Linked DNA regions of Homo sapiens. The protein of the gene in region 1 interacts with the protein of each later gene in a biochemical or structural test. Each region holds a gene or a part of one and is shown in the gene's direction. Other genes may lie near its edges. The genes, in order: RGS13 and CREB1.

Region 1 (3,828 bases):
ATGAGTCTTAGAGACAAAAGAACTCTCTTACCAACAATCATCGACACTTAATTTTAAGCTAACCCAACACATTGATGACTCTTCACTCGTGTTGTAGATTTTATTCTTCCCTATATAATGGGAATGATTAGAACGGACAGGCATTCAATAAACCTTGCCTAGCTCTTTCCATTTCACCAGATTGAAAAGGTTATTTTAGGTTACTTTTTCTAAAGTTTTAACAAGAGAAAAGAACAATGACTCAGATACTATTTCATGGAAATGTTTTTTGAAAGCAATCTTAACACAGTACACTGTTAAGCCTCAGTACTGATGCAAGCAGTCCATCCAAAACTGGCAGGATCCGTCTGAATTTTTAGAAAACAAAAGATATCTGACCTTTTAAGGACTCCCAATATTTTTCCATGTTCTCGGATATTTTTTAATCTCTTTAACTAATCCTCCTTCATTGTGTTAAGAACCTGCTAATGCTGATGGCTGTTCCTGCAGCACTAATTTTTAGGCTGCTAATTTTAGGTATAGCCAATGGACAGTGCTTGCGTGTCTATAGCCATCTTCAATTATCTAGTTGTTGAAAGCAGAACAATTAAGAATGCACCATAAACTGAATGGCAATAAACACATTGCCTATTTCTGTTTTATTTCCAACCTTTATTCTAAGTTCATGGGTACATGCGCAGGATGTGCAGGTTTGTTACATAGGTAAATGTCTGCCATGATGGTTTGCTGCACAGATCATCCTATCACCTAGGTAGTAAGCCCAGCATCCAATAGCTATTATTCCTGATGCTCTCCCTCCTCCCACGCCCCCACCCTACAACAGGCCCCAGTGTGTGTTGTTCTCCCCAATGTGTCCATATGTTCTCATCATTCAGTTCCCACTTATAAGTGAGAACAGGCAGTATTTGATTTTCTGTTCCTGCATTAGTTTGCTGAGGATATGGGCTTCCAGCTCCATTCATGTCCCTGCAAAGGACATGATATTGTTTCTTTTTATGGCTGCATAGTATTCCATGGTGTATAAAGTTACTTGTATTTGAGAATACAGTCATTTGCCAATTCACCTCATGAAGCTCACCAAAATGAACAGAGTTCTGGAATCTTTCACAACTATTTTCTAAATGGTAAATGGCTTTGTTTATACCGTTTAGGTAAAATGTAACTTGACATAATACACCTTAATAAAAATTAAAACTGATACAAAAAAATTCTAGCAAGTAGGAGACTGAGAAAATACTAGCTTTAGGGTTACTAACTGTATTACATGAGTGCATGCAAATAGGTTTTGTGGATTAACTCTAAGATTCTAATAGATAAATAGGTAAACACTTGGCTGGTGGCAGCGGCAAACAGTGCATAACCCTTTTAAAAGCAATTTGGCAGTCTGTACCAAAAACCTTAAAAATCTGCCTCTTTTAACCAACTTTGATTCTACTGCTAGTGCCCTGGAATTACTCTAATCATGTGGCCATGGCAAGCCTTAAACACAGCTGGGCTACATTTGAGTTTTTATGGTGAAAAATGAGAGAAAATCAATATGCTGTTTGACAATAATTATGTAAACTATGGAATGCCCCCCTTGTAGCATATTTCACCATCACCATAAACAATATGACTATCAATGATTATACATTTGTAATTATAAATTATAACACTACAAATGATTAATACAATTATGATGACATAAAATGCATAAAGTATAAACACACATAGTGTGATTACTTCTTGATTAAAAACACACAAATACAAACATAACAAAAAGACTTTAAAAAACTACATCAAAATACTAATAGTGGTAATTTATTAATAGGGAGATTATAGGACTATGGTTCTGAATAATATTTATTAAATTATATTTTCAAGTCTACACTATTTGCACAATTTTTATAATTTAAAAAATTTAAATAGTAAAAATAAAATGTAAAATATCACAGGAAAATAACTTTCCAACCAAAGCCACACACAAATGGAATGTAAATATATTTTGGTGTCATTTTCAAGATAATATAATTTTACTTAGTTCAACAAAAACCTTGAGAATATTTAGCCCAATCAGTGCTTTTTGTTTCTTTTCAAAGCCTTACTTTGGAGGAAGTATTACAGTGGGCCCAGTCTTTTGAAAATTTAATGGCTACAAAATGTGAGTATTGCGTATCTGTCATCTTTGAATAACTAGCGAGTTCCATTCTTAGAGGTAAAGGTGGGGGTGCCAGATGATGAATGTATGCTATTCTTCTCACAGCCTTCTAACTGGCAACTGACACAGTTAAAAAAAGAAAACCTGAAAATAGTTTGTTATGTCAACCACTATTATTTTCTCTGGTGTTAATTAAAACAAGATTAGTCACTGTGAATATTCTTCACAAGTATATGCACAAAATCCCTTGGAAAATATGCTTAAGTAGTAACGCATACCATAGCCTTCTAAAGTTAGTATTAAACAAAAACACTTAACTCGCTGTTCTTGCTGCCTTCAAAAGTAAGAATAAATTTGAGTCTTGCTGTTCTAAAACTCCTCCCCAAAGTTTGTTTCAACTTTTTCAGTGTCTGATTTAAGTGGGACTATACATGGGTCTGAATATAGTTGTAGGTAAGTATCGACATTAACATGGTACAAATAAGAGATACCAGCAATGGATGTGACAGAGACAAAGTCATGGGCTCAGTGCAGGAAAAATAAAGGAGGACGTGCATTCAAAAGAATAGTCAATTGCGTTTGGGGTCAGAAAAGCTGGTCCGTTGTAGAAAATGATAAAACCAGAAGACAGGTACAGAAAAAAAATGTAGGGTGTAGACACAGAAAATTCTCTTGTTGAATTTGGTAGTTTTTTTTAAATGGAGTTGGTTCCCCTCAATGCTTGTTAATTTTTGCCTATAGAACCATCTTTTTATTTAAGATCCCATTTTAGCCTCTCTGTGAATGTTTTATCTGTTTAGAGCTATGGACTATGAAGGAGAGTTGGCTGTGCTACTTACATGCTTTAACTAGTGGGGTGTACCAGTGGCTATTCTGGGCAAGGTACCCCCTGTTCCTCATGGGGGTTGTCATAGTCCTGAGGCACTACCTGCTCTTTCTGACTCAAGACCCTCTTTAGTATGGACTCAGTTGTCACTGCCCAGCCCAGAGGGTAATGGCAGTAGGTGTAGACACTTGGCTACTCCTGCTGAAACACGTTAATCAACCATTCTGGCGCTTACTTCTGCTTCATCCCTAGGGCTGGATCTACCTCTACAGGCTTGGGTCACCACCTGAGCTCTCATATTTTGTAGCATGCCTTTCCAATGGGCATTTGGGGCCATAGTTTCTTTCTTTGATGCAATCGCCACTGGCTTTCACTTTTCAGGTATTCCTCATAGTTTATAATCCAATTTGCCAGCATGAATGTGAATTTTAAACAAATATATCTTCTGGGTCAGTGTTAGAACATTGAAATGTGATGAAGAGACAAAAGTGCATATTCAGTTAACTATATTGTAAATTTTTGTCCCAATCCTCTGTAATACACATTTTGCCACCTTGCTAGATTGATCTCTTTCTTGGAGTTTCATACTCTTCATCTACAAAATGGGAATAGTATCACTTATCCTTTCAGGTTTATTGTGCAGGTGAGATACAAAACATCTAGCTCAATGCCTAATATAGATTAAGCACACAATAATTGGTAGTTTCTTTTAATAGTAATAAAGTACATGTCTTTGAATATCATTCTTTTTTCTCTGCTGCCTACCAACAAGTCCAAAATCTTGGTATTTAGTACTCTCTACACCCTAACCCAAAACATTTTCTAAAATTTGTCTCTAGCTATGACCTGTCACATAACATGCCCT
Region 2 (3,828 bases), on another chromosome or scaffold:
GGTGAAACCCCGTCTCTACTAAAAATACAAAAATTAGCTGGGCATGGGGGCAGGCGCCTGCAATCCCAGCTACTCAGGAGGCTGAGGCAGGATAATCACTTGGACCTGGAAGGCAGAGGTTGCAGTGAGCTGAGATTGCACCATTGCACGCCAGGCTGGGCGACAAGAGCGAAACTCTGTCTTAAGAAAAAAACAAAAGCTGTCATGGTATATTTCGTTTTTTGTATTCCCAAGTTGGTGTTTATGCGTTGATCATATATACAAAGTTTTTAATGTAAGAATATTGTTTTGAGGTTTTACTAATATTTGATTTAAAATATTACTATGTGCTATTTGGCCAGGCGTGGTGGCTCACGTCTGTAATCCCGGCACTTTGGGAGGTCGAGGCGGGCGGATCACTTGAGGCCAGGAGTTTGAGACCAGCCTGGCCAAGATGGTGAAACCCCATCTCTACTAAAAATAGAAGAATTATCTGGGTATAGTTGTATACGCCTGTAGTCCCAGCTGCTTGGGAGGCTGAGGCAGGAGAATTGCTTGAGCCCTGGAAGTGGAGGTTGCAGTGAGCCAGTATCACCCCACTGAACTCCACTCTGGGTGACAGAGCAAGATGCCATCTCATAAATAAAATATTACTGTGTGCTATTTGTACCTGCTAAATGATTAAAATGTTTACAAAGTGCTTTGTTGTTGTTGTTGTTGTTGAGACGGAGTCTTTCTCTGTTGCCAGGCTGGAGTGCAGTGGTGCGATCTCAGCTCACTGCAACCTCCGCCTCCTGGGTTAAAGCGATTCCCCTGCCTCAGCCTCCCAAGTAGCTGGGATTACAGGCGCCTGCCACCATGCCCAGCTAAAGAGACAGGGTTTCACCATGTTGGCCAGGATGGTCTCGATCTCCTTGACCTCGTGATCCACCCACCTCTGCCTCCCAAAGTGGTGGGATTACAGGCGTGAGCCACTGCGCCTGGCCTACAAAGTGCTTGTCTTTACATATTTGGGGATGGGGGTGGGGTAGATCATTGAAATCTGTAAAGGCAGAACGTTTTTTATCTGGAACATATCTGTAGACTAACAGAGTTAAATGATTTCCCACAGTGTCATGGAATCATCAGTGGATTGCCTCTTGGGGTGGAGGCAAAGATCATTAAAGCAGCAAACTGATAATGTGAACGTGGTTGTTTTTTCTCTGCCAATTAAATATATGCTAGTTTAGTCATTATAGAAGAGCCAGATGCTGGTCAGCTTGTTGAAGTTGTAAGTAGAAGGTGTGGTTTTATCACATCTGTAAATGTAGGTTTTTGAGACAAAACTTAAATAAGAATAGACGTTAGTTTTTATTCACATTCAGAATGTCTGACTCCCCTTAATATATACACACTCTTGTCTTATCTACTGGGTTTTTTTGTTGTTGTTTTTTGTTTTGCCTTTTCTCTCTCTCTTTTTAAGCTCTGCCAGACAAGGCCCTATGAAGATAGGTTTTACAGGTTGAGAATCTTTTATCTGAAATTCTTGGGACCAGAAGTATTTCCAGTTTTGGGTTTTTTCAGATTTTAGAATATTTGCATATACATACATAATGAGCTATCTTGGGGATGGGACCCAAGTCTAAACATGAAATTTGTTTCATATACACATTATACACATAGCCTGAAGGTAATTTTATACAAAATTTTTAATAATTTTGTGCATGAAACAGTTTTGACTGTGAACTGTTACATGAGGTCAGGTGTGGGAATTTTTCATGGCATCATGTCAGTGCTCAAAAAGTTTGAGATTTTGGATGTTTTATTAGGGATGCTTACCCTGTATTATATTTTGCCCAGATGTTTCCTCATTTGTCTTCTAGGCTACCAGAAAGATGTTAGCTTAGAAAAACGTATTCTGGCGTTTATTCCAACAGATGAGAAGGCAGTTTCTCCAGTGATGAATAATTACCTATAATTTAATACGTGCATTATACATCTCCAGTGATGAAAAATCACTGTGTATTAAAAAATTCTTGAAGCTAGGTACATAATCTCAACTCCTAAAAAAGAAAATAAACAGTAGTACTCCTTGATGAACTTACAGATGCTAAGTTGCCTTTTCTTAGAGTTGAAATAAGGTGATAAAGGAGTTTACCGTGAGACTAGCTGTGTGAACAAAGATGAAAAACACCCTTTCAGTTTTCTTCCTCTTGGATGATTCTAGGATCTCTAAAAAATAATCTTAAAAGGGGCGAGGTTTTGAGAGGATGAGGTCTAAGGAATTGATGGTGAGTTTTTTCTGAAAGAAGAGAAGTGACATTTGATTAGATAAGAAAGGGTTAAAAGGGAAGTTATTAATAAAATAGTTTAGGAGTAGAGTGGATCTGAAAGTTGACTTATACCAATGATGATAGAATGTGTCTTTTCCCAAAGGTTAGTGCATCTTCTCTGAAATGAAGACGTTTCTTTCATCAATTTTAAGTGAATTTCTAAGGATCTGGTTATCTACTTGTGAGTTTTTGGTTGTAACTGTATGACAGTACAGATGTAACTAAAAATGTTTGTAATTTACCCAAGGTTAAATAACCATTATTTTTGAGGGCTGTTATCCCTGTTGGTATAAGTAAGTAGTTGGCAGTAGGGGACACAGAAATACCTTGTTTTTCACCACTGAAGTGAAAATTACAGATTATTCTGAATTATTTGTACTCTTTTTTTTTTTTTTTGAGAGGAATCTCGCTCTGTCTCCCAGCCTGGAATGCAGTGGTGTGATCTCGGCTCACTGCAACCTCCGCCTCCTGGGTTCCAGCGATTCTGCTGCCCCAGCCTCCCAAGTAGCTGGGATTACAAGCATGTGCCACCATACCTGGCTAATTTTTTTTTTTTTTTTTTGTATTTTTAGTAGAGACAGGATTTCACCATGTTGGCCAAGCTGGTCTCGAACTCCTGACCTTATGTGATCTGCCTGCCTCAGCCTCCGATTACAGGCATGAACCACCGCCCCCAGCCCTATTTGTACTCTTAAAGGGGAGTCATTTTCTTATAATAAGTATCAGTAGTAGCTCTATTGTTTGCTGTGATCAATGGTGACACCTTGACTTTATGTATTGCCATTTATCAATCATTTATTCAGTGAAGATTTATTGACCATTGACTTTATTATGGTTGGTGAAATAATCGCAAGAAAATTTATTCAGTTAGGTATTTATAAAAATACCTAGGTATTAAATGAAGATTGTTCTAGTTGATATAAGCAATAAAGCCTGACTATATGGCTCCTACCCTCAAGAATCTTACGGTATAGTAGGGATGATGAAATAGTGTAAGAATGATTTATATGTGCCAGAGTACATGACAGAGTTTTTACTGTCTTGAAGAGCTACAGAGTTCAGAAGAGAAGGGGCTTAGTGAGGAAAAGTTTTGTGGGAGAAGTAGAATTCAAGTTGAATACTAAAGAACTTCAGTAAGTACAGATAAAATGGAGTGTATTCTAGGCAGTGGAATGGACAAAAAAATGAAAACATGGACATATAATGAACTTGACATACTCATAAATTGGTGAAGAAAGTATTAGATTATAGATCTACATTTTGAGGAATGCTGAGTATGAGGCAGGGAGCTTTGAGTTTCATGTAAGAGAAGGTAAGATATAAACAGGAATACAATGATAAATTGGGCTGAAATGTAGATTTCCTGACTCCCAATTCTTCTCCTTAGTGTAGACAGAGATATACAGTCATGCACTGTATAAGAACGTTTTGGTGAATGACAGATTGCATATACAACAGTGGTCCTGTGCTAGTGTAAGCAAACCTATTAAGAACTTCAGATAGGTCCTTCAGGAGGTATTCCAGAAGAAGGCATTGT

The links.
Region 2: the proteins of RGS13 (region 1) and CREB1 form a complex in vitro, tested with the Homo sapiens proteins (one study listed by BioGRID).

Annotation. Positions count from the first base shown.
Region 1 is NC_000001.11:192,645,848-192,649,675, forward strand, and holds part of RGS13 (regulator of G-protein signaling 13), read left to right. Parts: intron 1-2,078; coding exon 2,079-2,140; intron 2,141-3,828. UniProt on the Homo sapiens protein: Inhibits signal transduction by increasing the GTPase activity of G protein alpha subunits thereby driving them into their inactive GDP-bound form. Binds to both G(i)-alpha and G(q)-alpha.
Region 2 is NC_000002.12:207,536,373-207,540,200, forward strand, and holds part of CREB1 (cyclic AMP-responsive element-binding protein 1), read left to right. Parts: intron 1-3,828.